Linked DNA regions of Homo sapiens: regions 1, 2 and 3 are each linked to region 4. The links come from fine-mapping of genetic effects on gene expression. A gene starts in region 4. Each other region holds a variant in brackets. All regions are shown on one strand. Distances are from middle to middle.

Region 1 (5,000 bases), 76 kb before region 4:
CAGCTACTCGGGAGGCTGAGGTGGGGAGGACTGCTTGAGCCTAGGAATTCGAGTCTGCAGTAAGCCATGATTGTGCCATTGCACTTGCCAGGGTGACAGAGCGAAACTCTGTCTTTAAAAAACAAACAAAAGAGGCCAGGTGCAGTGGCTCACGCCTGTAATCCCAGCACTTTGAGAGGCTGAGGCAGGAGGATCACAAGGTCAGGAGTTCGAGGCTAGTCTGACCAACATGGTGAAACCCCGTCTCTACCAAAAATACAAAAATCAGCCGGGTGTGGTAGCAGGCGCCTGTAATCCCAGCTACTCGGGAGGCTGAGGCAGGAGAATCACTTGCACCCAGGAGGCAGAGGTTGCAGTGAGCCGAGACCGCGCCATTACACTCCAGCCTGGGCAACAAGCAAGACTCCATCTCAAAAACAAAACAAACAAAGAAACTTCCTTCTTTGAAGAGTCTGCGCTCCTAATTAGAAGGCTGTATCATGTGGGATAAATATTTAGCCTTTGAGAAGAAGCCATCAGTGCATACTCAACTACAGATACTCTTGGGCAGCAAGTACTTACTTCACCAGGTTTTGTTGAAGGGCATAGCCATTTTTCCAACAACATGTCCCAGACTTTTTCCAAATTAATTTCATTGACTTCGGCTATTTCTTTAGCTGCTGCATGAATATCTAAGATATTCAAAATAAAGAAAAGAAAAACTCAAGTTTTAAATATTTATATTGAATACTTATATGTGTATGTGTATATATGCACATACATACACATATAAGTATATACATATATAAGCATATGTAAGTAATATATATGTACACGTACATATATACATAAAACTGAGAATCAAAATAATAGCTTTTCTTGGACAACAAAAAAATTGTTTTGTCCTCACCAGGATAATCTGTGCCAGATGAATTCTGAATTCTTTGATTGATGCTAGGATGTTCGTAGAGACTGACAATAAGATGTGCTGGCTTTCCGATCACTCTTAAATATTCCTCAGTGTTCAGCTTGTGGGCTATGAGCACAGCTTCTGTGCCCGATCGCCGGTACTGGATATGAAGCTTCTTCAACAAAGCCTCGGCTTTTTCACGTTTTTCGTCCTTTTAAACAATTCCAAGCAAAAAGAAAATCTTACTTTGTAAGCCTCAGTTGAAGCCAAGCATCCATCTTTATCAATCACAATCCCTCCCCCCTTCCTCAGTTATGTTCCTAAGCATCTACATAAAGCCTTGGTCTTCCTTCTCCATTTTAGGCACCAGGGCAGCATGAGAAGGTAAATTAAGCTAGTACAATTTAATTAGGAAGAAGAGAAGCCGCCAATCTGATAGTTCAGACACACCTGCGATGGGATATTCTGTAGCCATCTCTCAGCTAAATAAAGGCAGAATTTCAAAGCAGATATCTTGAAGGAACCTAAAATAAATAAATAAATAAATAAATAAAGATTTACAGGCAAATCTTAATCTTTTCAAGAAAATGTATTTTGGTCAAATTAGCAACTTTTTAAAAATTACAAAAATGCATACTCATGGCTGGGCACAGTGGCTCATATTTGTAATCCCAGCACTTTGGGAGGCCAAGGCAAGTGGATCACCTGAGGTCAGGAGTTTGAGACCACCCTGGCCAACACGGAAGAACCCTGTCTCTACTGAAAATACAAAAATTAGCTGGGCATGGTGGCACATGCCTGTAGTCCCAGCTACTCGAGAGGCTGAGGCAGAGGTTGCAGTGAGCCAAGATCACGCCACTGCACTCCAAACTGGGCGACAGAGCAAGACTCTGTTAAAAAAAAAAAAAAAAAAAAAAAAGCCCACCGGGGCCCTCTCATCAGATTCCATTCCTATTCTCTAAATTCTTATATGCCTTTAGGAGTTTTCTGTGTGTGTGTGTCAGTCTGTGTTCACACATGCATGCATGTGCATCTTAACCCTAATGGGTAATACCATACATATTCTAGTATAATTTGCTGTTCTCACTTCATATCTTGGATATCTCTCCAAATCAGCCCCATAATATTTCGTTCTATGAATACACCCTATTTTCTAACCAGTTCCTGACCTGAGCATTTTTTAAAAAGTCACTTTCAACTTTTGTTACAACCAAAAATGTAGCAGTGAGTGCCTATGCTTGTGCACCTGTTTGGTTATGTGAGACTATCTAAAGATTCCTCATTGAAAGTGCGATTGGGCCAGGTGCAGTGGCTCACGCCTGTAATCCCAGCACTTTGGGAGGCCGAGGCGGGCGGATCACAAGGTCAAGAGATCGAGATCATCCTGGCCAACATGGTGAAACCCCATCTCTACTAAAAATACAAAAATTAGCCGGGCATG[A/G]TGGCGCGCACCTGTAGTCCCAGCTACTCGGGGGACTGAGGCAGGAGAATCACTTGAACCCGGGAGGTGGAGGTTGCGGTGAGCCAAGATCATGCCACTACACTCCAGCCTGGCGACAGAGCAAGACTCCATCTCAAAAAAAAAAAGAAAGTGTGATTGGATATTAAAAGTACCCATCACTGCCTATTCCTAGCAAAGGTCACACCCCAAAGGCGGCACAAGGACAAGTTGGAAATTGCCTGCCTCCCTGCCCATGCCCACTGCCCTTGAGCGTTTCAGCATTCACCACAGTTAAGAGAGCAAGCAAATACATTTGAAAACTACCATCCTGCTTCTCCTTAAAGATGCAAAAAGAGTACTTTTTTTTTTTTTTTAACTACAATTTTAAAAGAAGAGCTCATACCTTCAGGGATATCCTGGGCAAGGCTGATGGCAATAGCTACAGCCCACTCTGGGTTGACTATAGAGAGTAAGCAGGATTCGATGGTCTGCGTGATCTTAGTTATTTCCTTGTTAATCAGTGTTGAGGATTTAGCTTGTGTTAACTTCAGGAGCTTTGGCTTCAGTTTTTTTTCGAAAACGTGTTTTGCTGTAGACACGTACAGAGTGTCCAGAGAGAACTTCAAAGAAAAGGAAGGTTATGGCTGAAGCACATATTCACATATAAGGTTTTACATGAAAGCAGCAGAAAAATCTTCTATACGGGGTCAGAATTAATTGCAGGATACAGAAATGTCTTACAATGTTTTAATCCATTACCTTCATTAATTTCGAAATTAAGAGCAATGTTGGGAAAGATTCTTCACTGAGTTCTGTAGCTAGAAAGGAAACAAGGAAAGTACGATTTGCTTAAGAAAAAAAATTTGGCTATCCAGTAAAATTCATAAAAAGTTAATGAACACATACAGAGAATTTTCCAGAAGTTCTGTGCTGTGCCAAAGAATATCAGGTGAAAAGGCAGTCTAGTTTGGGCAGCTGATGGCAAAGTTATGACATGTTCCAACATATACTGATATTCTAGATCCACGGGAGGAGAAATTCTTCTGTATGACTTCAAATGTTTCAGAATACTCAATGCCTATATTAAAATAAAAAACTTTTGTCCAGTAAGAGTAACCCAATCCTAAACTGTCATAAAATCATCTAATAGTATACCATCAAAAGTTTCCATTCCTGAGACCATCTTGTTTTCAGAAAGAGGATCAAAACCTTTTCTAGTATTCTCTTTAACATTATTCATCTAAACTATAATTTATATACAATGATTAAAGGAATCCTATGAGGAGAAACCACTGGTGCCCTGTTGTTGGTAGATGTTTTGTAAATAAGAGCTTGACAGTTATCTGCTCTTCAAATAATTTGAGATATAATTCAAAATACTTGATTTCATTTTAAATATAGAGGCTACAGATCTAAATTCTCTACGCTCTTATCTTTCCTATGTTTATATTTTATATTAGGACACTTTGTATAATCTTTTGAATTGATATATTTTCTTATATAATAAGTCTTATTAACATAATATTAAAATATTTCTAAAATATTAATTTCTAAAATCAAATTAAAAAGTATAAAAGCCACTATGACCAAAATTCAGAAACGATGAAGAAGTTAATGAAAGTACTGAGACATAATTGAGTAGGTCTTGGACCTACCCATTAATACACAGAGCTGACCTAACTCTCAGTCCCATGGCCTTTTTCACTTCCTACATGGCAAATGTTTCCTTAATTCTTCACAATTAGTTCTGTAGTGACTTCATACTCTTCGACAGCAGGAGAGGTTATTTAAATCACCTCAAAACAGCAAAAAAAGGATGAAGATAAGTGATAAAATAGGAATGTCATGAAAATCTTTTTCTTTTTTTAAAGATTTGTAAAGATTTTTAAAAACCTAAAATAAACCACAGAGTTTAAAGGGAATTCAATGGATAATTTGGAAAGGCCCTGGATAATGATATGATTTATGATCCAAATAAAAGCAGAAAGATGATTTTTACATCTTTGATATATTTGTTATACCTGATTAATATTAATATTGGTTATCTTTTCATCAGCTCGTTCTATAACTTTCAAGACAACTTCAATCATTTCATAGTCATAAGGATCCAACTGTATAAAAACAAAAATATATCAAAACTTGATAAGACTTTGCCATGTTGAAATTTTATTCAATTACAATAATCAGCACAGATTACAAATATAAAAATGTCACTGCACTACATTGTTAAATTAATTACTCCCTTAAAAATGAGCTACAATCGGCCGGGCACGGTGGCTCACGCCTGTAATCCTAGCACTTTGGGAGGCCGAGGCGGGTGGATCACGAGGTCAGGAGATCGAGACCATCCTGGCAAACACGGTGAAACCCCGTCTCTACTAAAAATACAAAAAAAAATTAGCTGGGCGTGGTGGTGGGCGCCTGTAGTCCCAGCTACTCGGGAGGCTGAGGCAGGAGAATGGTGTGAACCCGGGAGGCGGAGCTTGCAGTGAGCTGAGATTGCGCCACTGCACTCCAGCCTGGGTGACAGAGCGAGACTCCATCTCAAAAATAAATAATAAAAATAAAAAAATAAAGAGCTACAATTTTCTCACCTCTAAAATTACCTGTGAGGATAAACATACATGCTAAAAAAAGGTATCAAAGGCTGTTTTTAAAAGCTGCACAAGG
Region 2 (5,264 bases), 290 kb after region 4:
TTCTCTTTGAAACAGTGAGCTGAATTAATAGTAACAGGCAAGCAGTTTTAGGACAAGTTTCATCCCTCCACCCTGTCCTCTGTGCCCATCCACTAACATTGCTGGACTTTGGTAACATGTCCTGCAGTACAAACCAAATTGATTTGTTGGAAGTGCCCTTCTTTGAAAATTGCAGAAATCCTTTTCCTGATCTGACATCAAGGCCAAATGACTTCCCTTGCAGACATACGGCTATGAGCACATATTGACCTTACACAACCTGGAGAAGGCCGGCCTGCTGAAACCGCAGACGGGGGGCAGAAACAATTACCCAACTATACGGAAAACATTACGCCTCTGGATGGATGATGTTAATGAGCAAGTAAGCCACACTTCTCCACCTCGTCTCAGCTTAGGGACTGGTTAGATCGTCCAGGTGACAACACATGCTTCTGAACCTACACATCTGCCTTGCTTTCTGAAAACAATTTTCTAATGTTTTTGAAAAAGTAATGTATGCATGTATTGTATCCATCAGAATCCTAGAAGGACACAGAGAATGCTCTTAAACTGGGGAGTTTCTGGAGAGTTTAATAAAGATGTGGGCTGGGCGCGGTGGCTCACACCTATAATCCCAGCACTTTGGGAGGCCGAGGCGGGCAGATCACTTGAGCTCAGGAGTTTGAGAACAGCCTGACTAACATGGGAAACCCCATCTCTACTAAAAATACAAAAATTAGCCCAGCATTGTGGTGCGTGCCTGTAATCCCATCTACTTGGGGGGCTGAGGCAGGAGAATTGCTTGAACCTGGGAGGCGGAGGTTGTAGTGAGCTCAGATCATGCCATTGCACTCCAGCCTGGGCGACAGAGCAAGACTCTGTCTCAAAAAAAAAAAAAAAAAAGTTATGGGGCAGGCTCGGTGGCTCATTCTTGTAATCCCAGTATATTGGGAGGCTGAAGGGTCAGATCGCTTGAGTCCAGGAGTTCGAGACCAGCCTGGGCAACATGGCAAAACCTTGTCTCTACAAAAAAAATGGCCAGTGGTAGTATGAGCCTTTAGTCCGAGGGGCTGTGGTTAGAGGATCACTGAGCCCAGGAGGCGGTTGCAGTGAACCATGTTTGTGCCACTGCACTCCAGGCTGGGCTACACAGTAAGACTCTGTCTCAAATAAATAAAGATGTGGGAAGAGTGGAGAGGCAGTGCAGTGGGGAGCCCTTGCCAGCCACGGCCTGAAGGACAAGGAGAGGGGGGTGTTCTAGAAACTTGTCTTAGAACCTGGAGAGAAGAGCTGTGGTGAGGCCATCTGGTGAGGTAAGGGGTGAGGGGCCTCTGGCTGAGGGTATGGTCAACCTCCAGCAGAGGAAGCTGGCCAGTGACAACGTCATCCTCACACTGCTGCCCACTCTCCAGTTCACTCTGGTGCTTTGTCTTGGTCAGACCCAAAGAGAAGGCATTGGAGTGTGTTGGTGTGGGACGCACAGGTCCATCTCCGGGCACAGAGCATTGCGGAGAAGGGTGGAGAGTGTCTAGAGGAGTCAGTGGAGATGTCCAGCACTCATAAACAAGCCAGCCATGGCCAGGCGCGGTGGCTCACACCTGTAATTCCAGCACTTTGGGAGGCCAAGGCAGGAGGATCACTTGAGGTCAGGAGTTCAAGACCAGCCTGGCCAACATGGTGAAACCCTGTCTCTACTAAAAAATACAAAAGTGATCAGGGCATGGTGGAGCATGCATCTGTAGGCCCAGCTACTGTACTCAGAAGGCTGAGGTGGGAGCCTCCCAGGAGGCTGAGCCTGGGAGGTTGAGGCTACAGTGAGCTGAGATTGCACTGCTGCACTCCAGCATGGGCGACAGAATGAGACCCTATCTCAAAAAGAAAAAGAAAAAGGGAAAAAAAAAGCTATGCAAAAGCAGGGCCATCAGGGCCAAGTGAGTTTCCTTCCACAGTTTCCCCTCAGAGGCAGCCACTGTGGCCAGTTTTTTATCTATCCTTCCAGAAAGATTCTGTGCATATACATTTTTACATAAAGAGTGCATATTCTCTACTGTTGGTCTCCAAAGTGGGGTGCACTTTGCTTTACATTTATTACTTATTCTAATGTTTCTAAATTTCAGTCTTTTTTGGTTTTTCATAAGGAACTTTATTAGGCCGCCTCTTGCAACAAAAGCTCATAACTAGACAGTCTCCTCTGTCAGGAGCAAAATTAAATGATTTTTTCCCGGTGGGAAAATAGAGACCCTTAATGTCTAGAGTCTATCATGTACATATTAGTTCAGCTGTCTTCACTGTTCTGACCTTTCTGACTCTGGACCCACCCACCACTTAACAAAGGATCTTGAAGGGTCTTCTGTGATCTTCCCCTTCTTTTTAATTTTTCTAAATTGCTACAT[A/G]GTGGTTTTGAGGCTATACCTTATTTAATGATTTAACAGATTGCTATTGATAGAAATTCAGGTTGTTTCCAGTCTTTACTGTTACATGCAGTGTTGCAGTTAATACGTTTATACTTTGGTCTATTATCTTTTGTTCTGCAAGCACCTCTGTAGGATTAATGCCTAAAAGTAGAATTGCTAAGTTCAAAGGTTATTGCACATCATTGCTCAGCTAGGGAGTGCCAAGTTCCCCCCAATATGTTTCATGCTGGCTGGACGCGGTGGCTCAGGCCTGTAATCCCAACACTTTGGGAGGCCGAGGCAGGTGGATCACCTGAGGTCAGAAATTCAAGACCAGCCTGGCCAACATGGTGAAACCCTGTCTCTACTAAAAATACAACAATGAGCCAGGAGTGGTGGTGCACACCTGTAATCCCAGCTCTTTGGGAGCCTGAGGCAGGAGAATTGCTTGAACTAGGGAGGCGGAGGTTGCAGTGAGCTGAAATTATGCCACTGCACTCCAGCCTGGGTGACAGAGCCAGACTCTGTCTCAAAAAAAAAAAAAAAGTTTCATGCCAAACCAAATAATTCTTCATCTTCTGTACCTAGAGCTGCTTTGAGTGGCTTTTCAAGATTTCAGTCAAAATTGAAGCTCTGGCTGCTAAAAATTGAGCCCAGCTAGGGTGGATTAGAACAAGGCATGGCAGGGGTGGGGGTTGTATATCTTTAAATCCAAATCAAATAATTTTGGATTACCCAAAAGGCCACAGTCAGGTAGCTCTAAGTCTCTGTATCTATAGGGTTTTTGTTCTTTAATTATCTCACAGAACCCCACGGACATATCGTATGTGTACAGTGGGTATGCCCCGCTCAGTGTGCGGCTGGCCCAGCTGCTTTCCCGGCCTGGCTGGCGGAGCATCGAGGAGGTCCTCCGCATCCTCCCAGGGCCCCACTTTGAGGAGCGGCAGCCACTGCCCACAGGACTGCAGAAGAAACGTAAGTCCCAGTCCAGCATCTACAGATAATTATGTACTGTTAGTGTGGTTTTCAGGTATTGTACAGTTGCTTTGTAAAATAGTAAAGCACTTAGGAGTCAGAATTAAATACACCTCTTTTGTTCGTTGCTAATGTATGTAGTAAGAACTCGAATCGGATTATTCCCTGAGGGATAGCAGCTTTCAACTTCTGTGTTGAGAATCTCAGAAGTTAAAAAAAAATGTTGAGATCAAAATCAGTATTCTTAGGTTTCAGATGAACTGTCTGGATGAAGGCACTTGTTTATTCTTATGAATGATAAAATGTTTGAAGAGGTGGGAAGAGAAGCATTAATAATAAATAGTTTTTAATTCTGAAATGTTTAAATTTTAGGTCAACCGGGAGAAAACCGAGTGACTCTGATATTTTTCCTTGGGGGCGTAACCTTCGCTGAAATTGCTGCCCTGCGATTTCTCTCCCAGTTGGAAGATGGAGGTACAGAATATGTCATTGCCACCACTAAACTAATGAATGGAACCAGTTGGATAGAGGCTCTGATGGAAAAACCTTTCTAGGATGTTCAGAGGAGACTTAACAAGTGTACTGCAGAATAAACTACCTCTTTGAAGAAATTGCTGAAAGGAAGTAAAACCCCATAGAAGAAACATGGGAATACAGAATATATTCTGGGGTCAGCTTCTTAAATTATACTACTGTTTACTGCTTTCTCCGTCTCTTTTGTATTCCCTTTTTTTTTTTCCTTTGAGACGGAGTCTTGCTCTGTCACCCAGACTAGAGTGCAGTGGCACGGTCTCACCTCACTGCAACCTCCACCTCCTAGGTTCAAGCAATTCTCCTGCCTCAGCCTCCTGAGTAGCTGGGACTACAGGCATGCACCACCACACCCGGCTAATTTTTGTATTTTTAGTAGCCATGGTGTTTCACCATGTTGGCCAGGCTGGTCTCAAACTCCTGACCTCAGGTGATCCACCTGCCTCGGCCTCCCACAGTGCTGGGATTACAGGCCTGAGCCACCGTGCCTGGCCCCTAATCTGCTGAAGAAAGAAGAATAGAAGAAAATCAACCTGAGTAAAAGCAGCACTGGTTTTGAGTTTTCTAAGCTCAGGGTCTTCATTAGAGACCTCTGGAAATACATTAAGGATGGTGGGGGTAGATAATCCATTCAGCCAGACAAACGGGGCCAGCTCTTAAAATAAGAAAGCTGAGACTGAGGAGGTGAAACTGAAAATAAAAAGAGAAAGTTCATCCTCTAATCCCCAGTGCTGTATTTCTTCAAGGCGCATCAGGCCTAGGACAGTGGTTAAGTGTTGGGAGCTGGAGATCATTTTATCACTGAGTTGAGATTTCTTTTTCCTGCAGAGTGTGGGAGATTATATTTAGGGTCATCAGTCACTGTCGCAACTGATCACTAAGGCAAGTTTGCTTCCTTCTACTTCTTACAAAGCAAGAGGTTTAGGGGAGCTTCTTGCCCAGAAACAAAGTTTATGCTCTATGTGATCAGCTACATCTCCTTAGGTTCCATACTTATCAGGGGCTTTTGACATGGAAGAATGTGATAATTGGGGAGCAACCTTCTGAGAATTCAGCCTTTGAAGTAATTCAAAGACAGTTTCTTAGCACACACGTTAACTCCAGACACAGCAGTGGTGGGTGCCTCCATTGAGGTTTCCGTTTTCTCTTCTGTCCATCAAGGGCCCAACATCCAACTGGTCCCACAGTGAGCAGGGGCAACTCTTGCTTCTTCAGCATCTGGCCACTTCGTTTCCATGGTAACTGCCACGTGTACTTTTCTAGCAGTCTGTGGCCACTCCGTACTCAGCTGAAAACACTGTTTCAGCCCCCTCTCTGGTGACCTCAGCCTTCTCCAGGTGTATCTCTTGATGATCTTGGAGACCAGCAGCCACAGCTGCTGCTACT
Region 3 (5,000 bases), 160 kb after region 4:
AATTCATTCAGAAAATATCCTGAGCGTCTGCTATGCACCGGAAGTTGTTCCAGGTGTTGTAGATATGGCACCAACGAAGACCAACACATCGTGATCTAAAGGGGCTCCTCATGGCATTAAAATAAAAATCGAAACTCCTTCCTTGGACTTGCAGTGCCCCTTGTTCTCTGGACCCTGCCCACCCTCCCGACCTCTTGTCCTTCTCACACCCCTTTCTCACTCTGCTTCAGCTACACTGGCCCCTTTGCTGTTTCTTTTCTTTCTTCTTCTTCTTTTTTTTTTTTTTTGAGATAGGTTTTGCTCTGTTGCCCAGGCTGAAGTGCAGCAGCGCCATTTCGGCTCATTGCACCCTCTGCCTACAGGGCTCAAGCAATTGTCGCGCCCCAGCCTCCTGAGTAGCTGGGACTACAGGCGTGAGCCACCACAGCTGGCTAATTTTTGTATTTTTAGTAGAGACAGGGTTTCGCCATGTTGCCCAGGCTGGTCTCGAATTCCTGTCCTCAAATGATCTGTCTGCCTTGGCCTCCCAAAGTGCTGGAATTACAGGTGTGAGCCACCATGCCTGGCCCCCTTTGCTGTTTCTAAACACCCAGACTCATTCCCACTTTAGAATTTGTTGTTTCTTCTGCTTGGGATGTTTTGTGCCCGGTGCCTCGTGGTCACTTAAGTCATGCTCAAGTGTTACCTCCTCAGGCATCCCTTCCTTGGCCACCCCAACTAAAGACACCTTCTATGGCAGTGTCACACTACCCTGTTTTATTTTTTTCATAGCCCTCTTCACCAGTTGAAAATTATCTTTCATTTTTTTACTTGCTTATTGTCCATTTCTCCCTGCCCAGAATTTAACCTCCATGAAAGCACGGAAACTTTCTGTCTCATTCACTGTCACACCCACAACACTTAGGACAGGGCCTGGCACATAGTAGGAGCTCATTAAATAGTGTGGAGAGAATCAGAGGGTTTTGAATACAGTCGTCACTTTATACCCATGAAGGAGAGAGTAAAGTAGGGCAAGCAGAGGTCGACTTAGGACCAGTGAAGATTTTACCCTTCTCTGTAGGAGAGTTGCTGGAAGGTGAACTGGCCCTTCACTGGAGGTAATTATATTACTTGAGGTAATCAAAAGTGGCCAGACGTGGTGGCTCACGTCTGTAATCCTAGCATTTTGGGAGGTCAAGGTGGGTGGAATCAGTTGAGGTCAGGAGTTGGAGACTAGCCTGGCCAACATGGTGAAACCCTGTCTCTACTAAAAATACAAAAATATTAGCCGGGCGTGGTGGCACATGCCTGTAATCCCAGCTGCTTGGGAGGCTGAGGCAGGAAAATCTCTGGAACCCGGGAGGCAGAGGTTGTAGTGAGCTGAGATCATGCCACTGCACTCCAGCCTGGACGACAGAGCGAAACTCCGTCTCAAAAAGAAGGAAAAAAAAAAAAGTACCGTGCTTTGGCTCTTTCATGTCACAGGCAATTAAGTTTTAAGTGAGGCTTACATTTGTATTTGGCAAATACCAGCTAACCATGTTTATTTTATTTTATTTTTTTTTTATTGAAGTGCAGTGGTGTGATCTTGGGTCACTGCAACCTCCACCTCTGGGGTTGAAGTGATTTTCCCGCCTCAACCTCCCGAGTAGCTGGGATTACAGGTGCTTGCCACCATGCCCGACTAATTTTTGTATTTTTAGTAGAGACAGAATTTCAGGCCTGTCTCAAACTCCTGACCTCAAGTGATCTGCCTGCCTCGGCCTCCCAAAGAGCTAGGATTGCAGACATGAGTCACCCCACCTGGCCTCCATGTTTACTTTTTAAAATAAGCTGTTTATCTTGGAATATGGCAGATAAGAAGCCACCTTACAAGACTGCTCACAAAATTCCTGTGAAACAACCCCTCATTACTGCTCTTGAGACATTTTATAGCTTTATGCACTCAGGCACTGTGAGATTAAATGGCTTGCCGAGAACTGGATAATGAAGAGATGAGAG[AGT/T]CCAGAGAGGATTGTTTCTGTTTCCTGTTTGTAGACACCCACTCATTAACCCAACAGGAATTTATCAGTGTTTTTATTTTTTACAGGAGCGTACAGGAAGGGTATTTGTTTCTGTTCCCACAGCATTTTGTAGAAATCTCTTGATGTACTTAACACTTTTTACAGGAATTTCTTGTCTGAATCTTCTTGTCTGTCTCCCTCAATGGCCAACGCTGTATTCTGTTTATCCTTGTTTTTTAAGGATCCAAACACTCAAGAAATATATATTGAATAAATAAATGAGAACTTAAAAATCTGAGGTTTGCTAAAGCATAAAAATAGTATCTAGGGTTTTTTTTGCGTTTCTAGTTTAAATTAATTCTGTCTTCAGTAGTGACTTTTACCACAGTATTAGGAGTTACATGCTAACATTCTGAGAGTAAAGAGAACGAATTGGGCTTGTTTGTGTTTGCCATGGGAATCTATCTTTTAGTTTTTTTGTTTGTTTTTGAGACAGGGTCTCACTGTCTTGTCCAGGCTGGAGTGCAGTGTCATGATCATAGCTCACTTGCAGCCTCAGTAGCTGGGATCACAGGCACATGCCACCATGCCTGGCTAATTTTTAAATTTTTGTAGAGATGGAGTCTCACTGTGTTGCCCAGGCCAGTCTCAAACTCCTGGCCTCAGATGATCCTCCTGCCTTGGCCTCCCAAAATGGTGGGATTACAGGCATGAGCCACTGCACCTGGCCTTGTTTTTTGTTTCAATATTGAAAATGTTTTTCTTTAATAACTTAGATATTTGTCTTAGAACATAGATTTCTTAGATATGATTTGATAATAGTGCCTTCTGTTTATTGTCAATGCATTATTTAATGCTTCTGTTTCCTGTACGTGCATGTACTAGACTTTTCTGCATTGTCTGGAACACATGAGAAATAAAACCTAACTTTGTAAAGTCCCGTTGAAATGCGTAAACACGTTTTTTGATTGTAGAATGATTAAGTAGAAAAACATTTGATGATTTTAGGACTTCACCTGACTTTCTGTCTCCATAGAATAACTACTGATTTTTTACAGGGAAAAGAAAAATACATTTTCTGTTAAATGAGTGAAGAGTTCCATGTTTGGTGGGAGAAAGAATATAAGAAAACTTTTTGTTCTAGGAACTAGTAATCATTCATTTCAGACAAATTTTGTGACATAATTTTTTTTTCAGGATACATGTATATTACCTGCATTTAGAGAAATAGTTGCTAATTTGTTATTTGTGATTACTTTTTACAAAGCTGATCTGAATGAAGCTTGTAGTTTGCTTGGAGAATTGTTGACTATAGCCTATTAGATGCCTCTTGGAAAAGCAATTGTCATGACAGTGACTTCGACTCATCCCCAAAGAATTTAACACATTGTCTGAAGAGGTTGCATCATCTTTAACTAATGTGCTGTGTCCTGCTCACATGATGCTGGCTGGACTGCTGCTCTGAATGGTGTGGTGTGGGAGGAAGGAGAAAATTGAGGCCGACTTTATTTTCTTTTGACTCAACTGCAGTGAGACCAATTTTATATAGGTGATGATTTGTGTGTTAGTACTAACGAGTACTAAAAGGTCAAATGTGTCAAGTCTAGAACTAGTACTCTTTTTTTTGAGACAAGGTCTCACTCTGTCACCCAGGCTGGAGTACATTGGCACAGTCTTGGCTCACTGCAACCTCTGCCTCCTTGGTTCAAGCAACTCTTGTGCCTCAGCCACTTGAGTAGCTGGGATTATAGGCATGTGCCACTGCATCCAGCTAATTTTTGTATCTTTAGTAGAGATGGAGTTTCACCATGTTGGCCAAGCTGGTCTCGAACTCCTGGCCTCAAGTGATCCGCCTGCCTTGGCCTCCCAAAGTGTTGGAATTACAGACCTGAGCCACCGCACCCAGCCTAGGAAGGATAATTTTAATAGTTGTGAAGAAACAGAGAGCCTCACTGTGGAAAATAGCAAGAGTCAATTATTATTTTTTGAAACAGTTTCTTGTTCTATTGCCCAGGCTGTAGTGCAGTGGTGTGATCATGGCTCACTGCAGCCTTGGGGACTCCAGCGATCCTCCCACCTCAGCCTCCCAAAGTGCTGGGATTATAGGTGTGAACTTCCACACTGGGCCAATTATTTTTTGAAGTACTTTTTTTTTTTTTTGAGACAGAGTCTCTCCCTGTCGCCTAGGCTGGAGTGCAGTGGTGTGATCTTGGATCATTGCAACCTCCGCTTCCCGGGTGCAAGTTATTCTTGTGCCTCAGCCTCCCAAGTAGCTGGGACTACAGGCGTGAGCCACCACACCCAGCTGATTTTTGTATTTTTAGTAGAGACAGGTTTTTACCATGTTGGCCAGGCTGCTCTCAAACTCCCAACCTCAGGTGATCCACCCACCTTGGCCTCCCAAAGTGCTGGGAGGCGTGAGCCATCGTGCCTGGCCTATTTACTTTTTTATTTTTTTGAGGTGGAGTCTCACTCTGTCACCCAGGCTGGAGTGCAGTGGTACAACTGTGGCTCACTGCAGCCTCAAACCCTTGGGCTCAAGCAATCCTCCCACCTCAGCTTCCTGAGGAGTGGGACCACAGGCGCACACCACTATGCCCGGCTAATTTTTTTTATTATTTGTACAGACAGGGTCTTCCTTATGTTGTCCAGCCTGGTCTCGAACTCCTGGGCTCGAGCAGTTCTCCTGCCTGGGCCTCCCAAAGTGCTGAGATTACAGGCATGAACCACTGTGCCCAGCCACAAGTTTGTTTTGAAGCAGGAGCAGTTCTTTCTTTTTTTTTTTTTTTAAATAGCCCAGAGGTCCTTTATTTTATTTTATTTTTTAACATCTATTATGCCATGAATTCATAGGGAATAGGTTCCAGCAGCTCAGGCTCCTTCCCATTGGTTCTCACAAAGTGTGCTTCTCTGGGTGGAGCAGGCTGGCGCTTGAGTTGAACCCAGGTCCCTTGCTCTTTGGCTTCTTTCTTTTTCTGATCATTTTCCTTCACGCGTTTCAGGAAGCTATCTTGGCTC
Region 4 (5,233 bases):
ATTCTGTGAATGAAACAGTCAGTGTAATAATCACTACCTTTTCAGAAGAGATCTTCACTAGCAAATCTACTTGATATAAAGCAGTTCCATGTTCTTTTCTTGAACCGACACTCAGGTACCCACTTCCGGTATCATCATTTGTTAGCAGCTCAATATCATTCCACATGTTTCTGAGACTGTCTTCCTGAGTCAGGAACCACTGTCTTTCCTGAACAACATAAAATTAGACACCATATTATCTTGTTGCATAGAACCTGGTTCCTTGGGAAATGATAAAGCTTACTCACAAAACAAAAACAAAAGTCTAACATTAACATATACAGACATCTTAGTCTTCTTGTTATTGCTGTGGCCACTAAACACTTCGGGCCAATAACATAAATGGAACTAGAGCTATGATGGTTACCAGAGAACAACATATTGGTTTATGCACACAAACCAACAATTCTGATCTTACCAATGTATCTTAGAGCTTCCATTACTTTGTGTGTCTAGTTTGGAATTATACCAAGTTTTCATTAGAAATAAACCTTTAATTATACCAAGTTTTCATTAGAAATAAACCTTTCATTAGAAATAAACCTTTAATAGCAGCAAACAGTGTAGGTTTAGATGCCAGATTGTCAGGGATATCATAGGATGATAAGATTCCAGATGAAGTTCAGAAAAAGTCCATTGATGCTATCATAGTATTATTATACAACAAATAAAAATGATAAGGGGAGGAGAAAAAAATGAATTAGGTTTCTGGATCAAAGACTAAGCTTGAAACCTTATGAGGTTTACCCATCTCAAAAAGCAAAGGTTTACATAAACCATATTACCTGGAGTCTGGGTGGGAAAAGAACACTAAGGATAAAAACAATCCTTGGATCAAGACTGGTAGGGAATGATAATCAAATAATTACAATTGGTTTCATAAGTGCTACTAGAAGTATGTTTCAATATCTATAAAAGGTATAGCACAAGGTAGAAACAATTTCTGACTTGGTGCTCTTTCACAATGACTAGGCAGCTGTCCTTGGGTGATCACTTAATCTTTCTGTTCCTCAATTCTCTAATTTATAAAATAGGAATATACAGACCAGGCCGGCGCGGTGGCTCACACCTGTAATCCCAGAACTTTGGGAGGCTTAGGCAGGTGGATTATCTGAGGTCAGGAGTTTGAGACCAGCCTGGCCAACATGACGAAACCCCCTCTCTACTAAAAACACAAAAAATTAGCCGGGCGTGGTGGTGTGCGCCTGTAATCCCAGCTACTCAGGAGGCTGAGGCTGTAGAATTGCTTGAACCCGGGAGGCGGAGGTTGCAGTAAGTCGAGATCGTGCCACTTGCACTCCAGCTTGGGCAACAAGAGTGAAACTCCGTCTTGGAAAAAAAATATATATATACAGTTTGCCGTCAATATCCATGTGTTCCACATCCCTAGATTGCACCTACAGGCATAGCACATTTACACTGTTACGCAAGATAAGAAATCAAGAGATGATTTAAAGTATACAGGCAGATGTTCCTAGGCTACATGCAAATACTATGCCATTTAATGACAGGGACTTAAGCATCCTAGGGTTTTGGTATCTGTGGGAGGTCCTGGAACCAATCTCCCATGGATACCAATACCAAGGGACTAATTTAGTTGTACCCACCTGAAGGAGTTTTCTATTTTTCACTTCTGGTTTTTTGAGAGACGAGGGTCTCACTATTTTGCCCTGGCTGGCCTTGATCTCCTGGGCTCAAGCAATCCTTCTGCTTCAGCCTCCAAATGTTTTGAGTTTTAAATGTTCACAGAACAATGCTTGGTTGATGGCAAACATTCAATTTTAGGTGTTAGCTAATTTGTTATTGGGCTGAGAATTGAAGATCATAGTTTTATAAATGTTTAAAGAGTTCTTCCTAAGAGCATAAGCAAGGGAACAGAAACAAAACATGTTTGGAGAATAGAGAAGTTTCAGTGGCTGGTGTTTGGGTGGGAGTGAGGAGATGAAGAAGGAGGGACAGGTTGGAATGAATACCTTTATGGGTCTCAATTTCCCACATCTGTGAAATAGAGAAACCGCCCGTAACTGCCATATTTACTTATTCAACAAATGTTTATTGAATACCTATTTACTATGTGCCAGACACCTTTCTAGGAACTGGGAATATAGCTTGAACAGAACACAAAATGTCTTTGCCATTATGAAGTTTATGTTTTTGCGGGAAAAACGGACAAAAATAAAATTGTTAATACGTATCTTGTTATGCTACCTCCACAAAAAAGCAACTGCACAAATAATTACAAAAAGTGCTAAATGATTTGAAGGAAACAGTGATTAAATGGATAAGGTGAGGCGTCGCTGAAGAAGGATTTGTTTGGGAAGGGAAGGAGGTGACATCTGAGCTGAGACCTGAATAACAAGAAGTACGCAAAACTTAGGCGGAACGCGACGTAGGCAGAGGGAACAGAGTGCAAAGACTCGGAGGCTGGGTAGGAAGCGTTTGATGCTGCTGCCGGGTCAAAGCAAAAGCAGAAGACAGTGAGGGAGAGAGCAGTGGAGTCCAATAAAACCTCGACCTCAAGATTGAATTTTATTCTCAGTACAAGGGGTAGAAGGGGAACTCAGCAAACGAGTGGTCTGATTTTATAATTTTGAGATCACTCTGGCGGCGGAATGCAGAACAGATTCGCGAATACGAGAGAATGAGCAAGATGAAACACTTGTCAGTTAGGCCTCCATACTTAAACGCTCTCCGCTGGACATCGCCGCCAGCAAAAACCGACTCCAACCTCTCTCCTGCCAGCGTCAAGGGGAAAACAACAGGAACTGAGCAGAGGCTGCAGCTACTTCGTCCTGAACCCACCCCCAGTTCCCTACACAGCGCAGCTCCCCGTCCTCACCTGCAATTGAAGAAACTAAAGAGGAACACTCAGATATCTGGCCCCTCTTCCTGACTCACACAACCGCCTCTAGTCTTTAGGTTCCATGCCACAGGCTTAAATTGGCGGGAGAACACTAAACCCAACCCCTTTACGGCGGCCGGAAGAGACCAAGATTACTTTAGACTCGAAATAGGAAGTTGCCCCACCCTGAGTTCCGCCCATTCCGTTCTCCCGACTGCGCATTCCGGGGGTGTATTCTTGGCCCCGCCCTCTTCACGGTCTTTACACTCCCCTATGAAAGAACACCCAATCACCGCCTCGAATTGCGTTGTTATAGAAACTTTTGTTACCGCCCCTTTTTCTCCCAGCAAGCTGTGCGACGCGCCGGGCCTCCTCGCCTTTGTGCCATCCGGGTCTCTCGCGCGAGCGATTTAGTCTGAGGCGAAGCTTCGGAGCGGCCGGTACTGTTGAAAGCGACAAGTGGAGGCGCCGCTCTAGCGGCCGGGACTCTGAACTATGGCGGTAGGTACCGAATCTGAGTTTAAAGCCAGGGATATTTTTCTGCTACGTTCCAACAGTGGGTGAACGGCTCCCAGAACCTTGTTCGTGTGTATGTGTGTAGACAAAATGGCGCCGCGGCCTTCTTCTGCGCCCGCCATCATGGCTGCCTGCTGTAGGGAGGGGGAAGTAAGGCGGTGTTGGTGGGGGTGGGGAGCCGCAGGGAGTGCCTTTTTTTTTCCAGAACTTTCCTCCTCTCTTCCCCAACCCTACGTTCCTTTCGCCTCACTGAACTTCCTCCATTTTCGCTTATTCACCCTGGCTAGTGATTTATTCTAAGTTTTTTTTAGGGCCTGAGAATTTGCGGTGGAGAAAGGGGCTGGGGAAGAGAAAGACGATCAGGAGTGGTCTCTGAAAAGTATTGGGTCAAAAAGGCAGTGTCTGTAAAGGGTAGTGTGGGAGAAGAGAGCGACTTGTAGCTATTTTTTTTTTTGTACGCTCAATGAGATGCTTCTAGTTGCATAATTTCAATTAGTGTTCGTCCGTGTAAACCTTATTATTGTGTATTAACGAGCTAGGAAGGTATTGCTGAAAGGGAGTGAAAATTCAACTTAAAAGGTTGTGGAACTACCAATTCTGACTGATGCGCGGTTTCCGAAGTGGCCCGTGATGTAATCAATTTGAAGTCCGAGAAGCGTTACAGTTAAGTCTTGTCACTGACCTTGTTCCTTTAAATTTAAACCCTTCGTTGGCCGGGCGCGGTGGCTCACGCCTGTAATCCCAGCACTTTGGGAGGCCGAGGCGGGCGGATCACGAGGTCAGGAGATCGAGACCATCCCGGCTAAAACGGTGAAACCCTGTCTCTACTAAAAATACAAAAAAATTAGCCGGGCGTAGTGGCGGACGCCTGTAGTCCCAGCTACTTGGGAGGCTGAGGCAGGAGAATGGCGTGAACCCGGGAGGCGGAGCTTGCAGTGAACCGAGATCCCGCCACTGCACTCCAGCCTGGGTGACAGAGCGAGACTCCGTCTCAAAAAAAAAAAAAAAAAAAAAAAAAAAAAAAAAAAAAACTCTTCGTTGACCCCAGAGGAGCTACAGTTCGTAAATTATCTATTCTGAACAATAAGCCTGCGTGTGTATAAGATACCCAATTCTGACGGATCCACATTATTTTGTGCTTACCTCATTTTTATTCCGTTAAAAGGAAAATGTAAAGATTTTGCATTCCTTTTTACTGACTAAAAAATTACATCATTTTCGATAATAATTATGACTCTTAAACATAGTGATAGTTTTAAAGTTTGCTCTTCCTAACGATTGGAATGCCTGGGATTAGGCAGATGATTTTCTTTTTCCCCCATACCCCTCTATTATTTAGGTGATTGAGTTTAAACCCGTTTCTTTTACTGTCTTCCTTTGTTTAGTGTTTTGGGCCTCAGTATACTTAAAGAGTAATACTATTTTTCTTGGGTTGCAGGTTTTTTTGTATTTTTTCGAGACGGAGTTTTGCTCTTGTCGCCCAGGCTGGAGTGCGATGGCGCGATCTTGGCTCACTGCAACCTCCGCCTCCCGGGTTCAAGCGATTCTCCTGCCTCAGACTCCCGAGTAGCTGGGATTACAGGCGCCCACCACCACACCCGGCTAATTTTTTTATATTTTTGGTAGAGACGGGGTTTCACCACGTCGGCCAGGCTGGTCTCGAACTCCTGACCTCAGATGATCCACCCGCCTCGGCCTCCCAAAGTGCTGGGATTACAGGAGTGAGCCACCGCGCCCGGCCGGGTTCTAGTATTTTAAAAAGTGAATTTAAACATTTATTTATGCCGTGCCTTGTTCAATAAAAAGACAGTCCCCTAGAGAAGTGACCTAGTATTC

Evidence for each region.
Region 1: its variant is fine-mapped to the expression of KNTC1 in whole blood (TOPMed, PIP above 0.99).
Region 2: its variant is fine-mapped to the expression of KNTC1 in whole blood (TOPMed, PIP above 0.99).
Region 3: its variant is fine-mapped to the expression of KNTC1 in cerebellum (GTEx, PIP 0.99).

Annotation. Positions count from the first base shown.
Region 1 is chr12:122,600,977-122,605,976 of GRCh38, reverse strand. KNTC1 (kinetochore associated 1) reads right to left here. Exons shown (of 64, transcript NM_014708.6): 45 at 4,352-4,441; 46 at 3,237-3,408; 47 at 3,090-3,148; 48 at 2,734-2,950; 49 at 1,340-1,413; 50 at 890-1,100; 51 at 562-671. Among named protein-coding and RNA genes, the nearest start is that of KNTC1, 76 kb to the right of the region's middle. The variant A/G (reference allele first, on the strand shown) is at 2,331.
Region 2 is chr12:122,230,883-122,236,146 of GRCh38, reverse strand. It overlaps VPS33A (VPS33A core subunit of CORVET and HOPS complexes), which reads left to right. Exons shown (of 13, transcript NM_022916.6): 11 at 224-361; 12 at 3,179-3,347; 13 at 3,720-5,264. The coding sequence ends at 3,901. Among named protein-coding and RNA genes, the nearest start is that of DIABLO, 7.5 kb to the right of the region's middle. The variant A/G (reference allele first, on the strand shown) is at 2,373.
Region 3 is chr12:122,365,449-122,370,448 of GRCh38, reverse strand. The region is part of intron 3 of CLIP1 (CAP-Gly domain containing linker protein 1); the gene reads left to right. It also overlaps the pseudogene RPL21P1. Among named protein-coding and RNA genes, the nearest start is that of CLIP1-AS1, 28 kb to the left of the region's middle. The variant AGT/T (reference allele first, on the strand shown) is at 1,981.
Region 4 is chr12:122,524,997-122,530,229 of GRCh38, reverse strand. KNTC1 (kinetochore associated 1) reads right to left here and starts at 2,981. Exons shown (of 64, transcript NM_014708.6): 1 at 2,879-2,981; 2 at 38-239. The coding sequence starts at 166. It overlaps RSRC2 (arginine and serine rich coiled-coil 2), which reads left to right and starts at 3,294. Exons shown (of 10, transcript NM_023012.6): 1 at 3,294-3,382. The coding sequence starts at 3,377. RefSeq lists enhancers at 948-1,047, 3,155-3,614.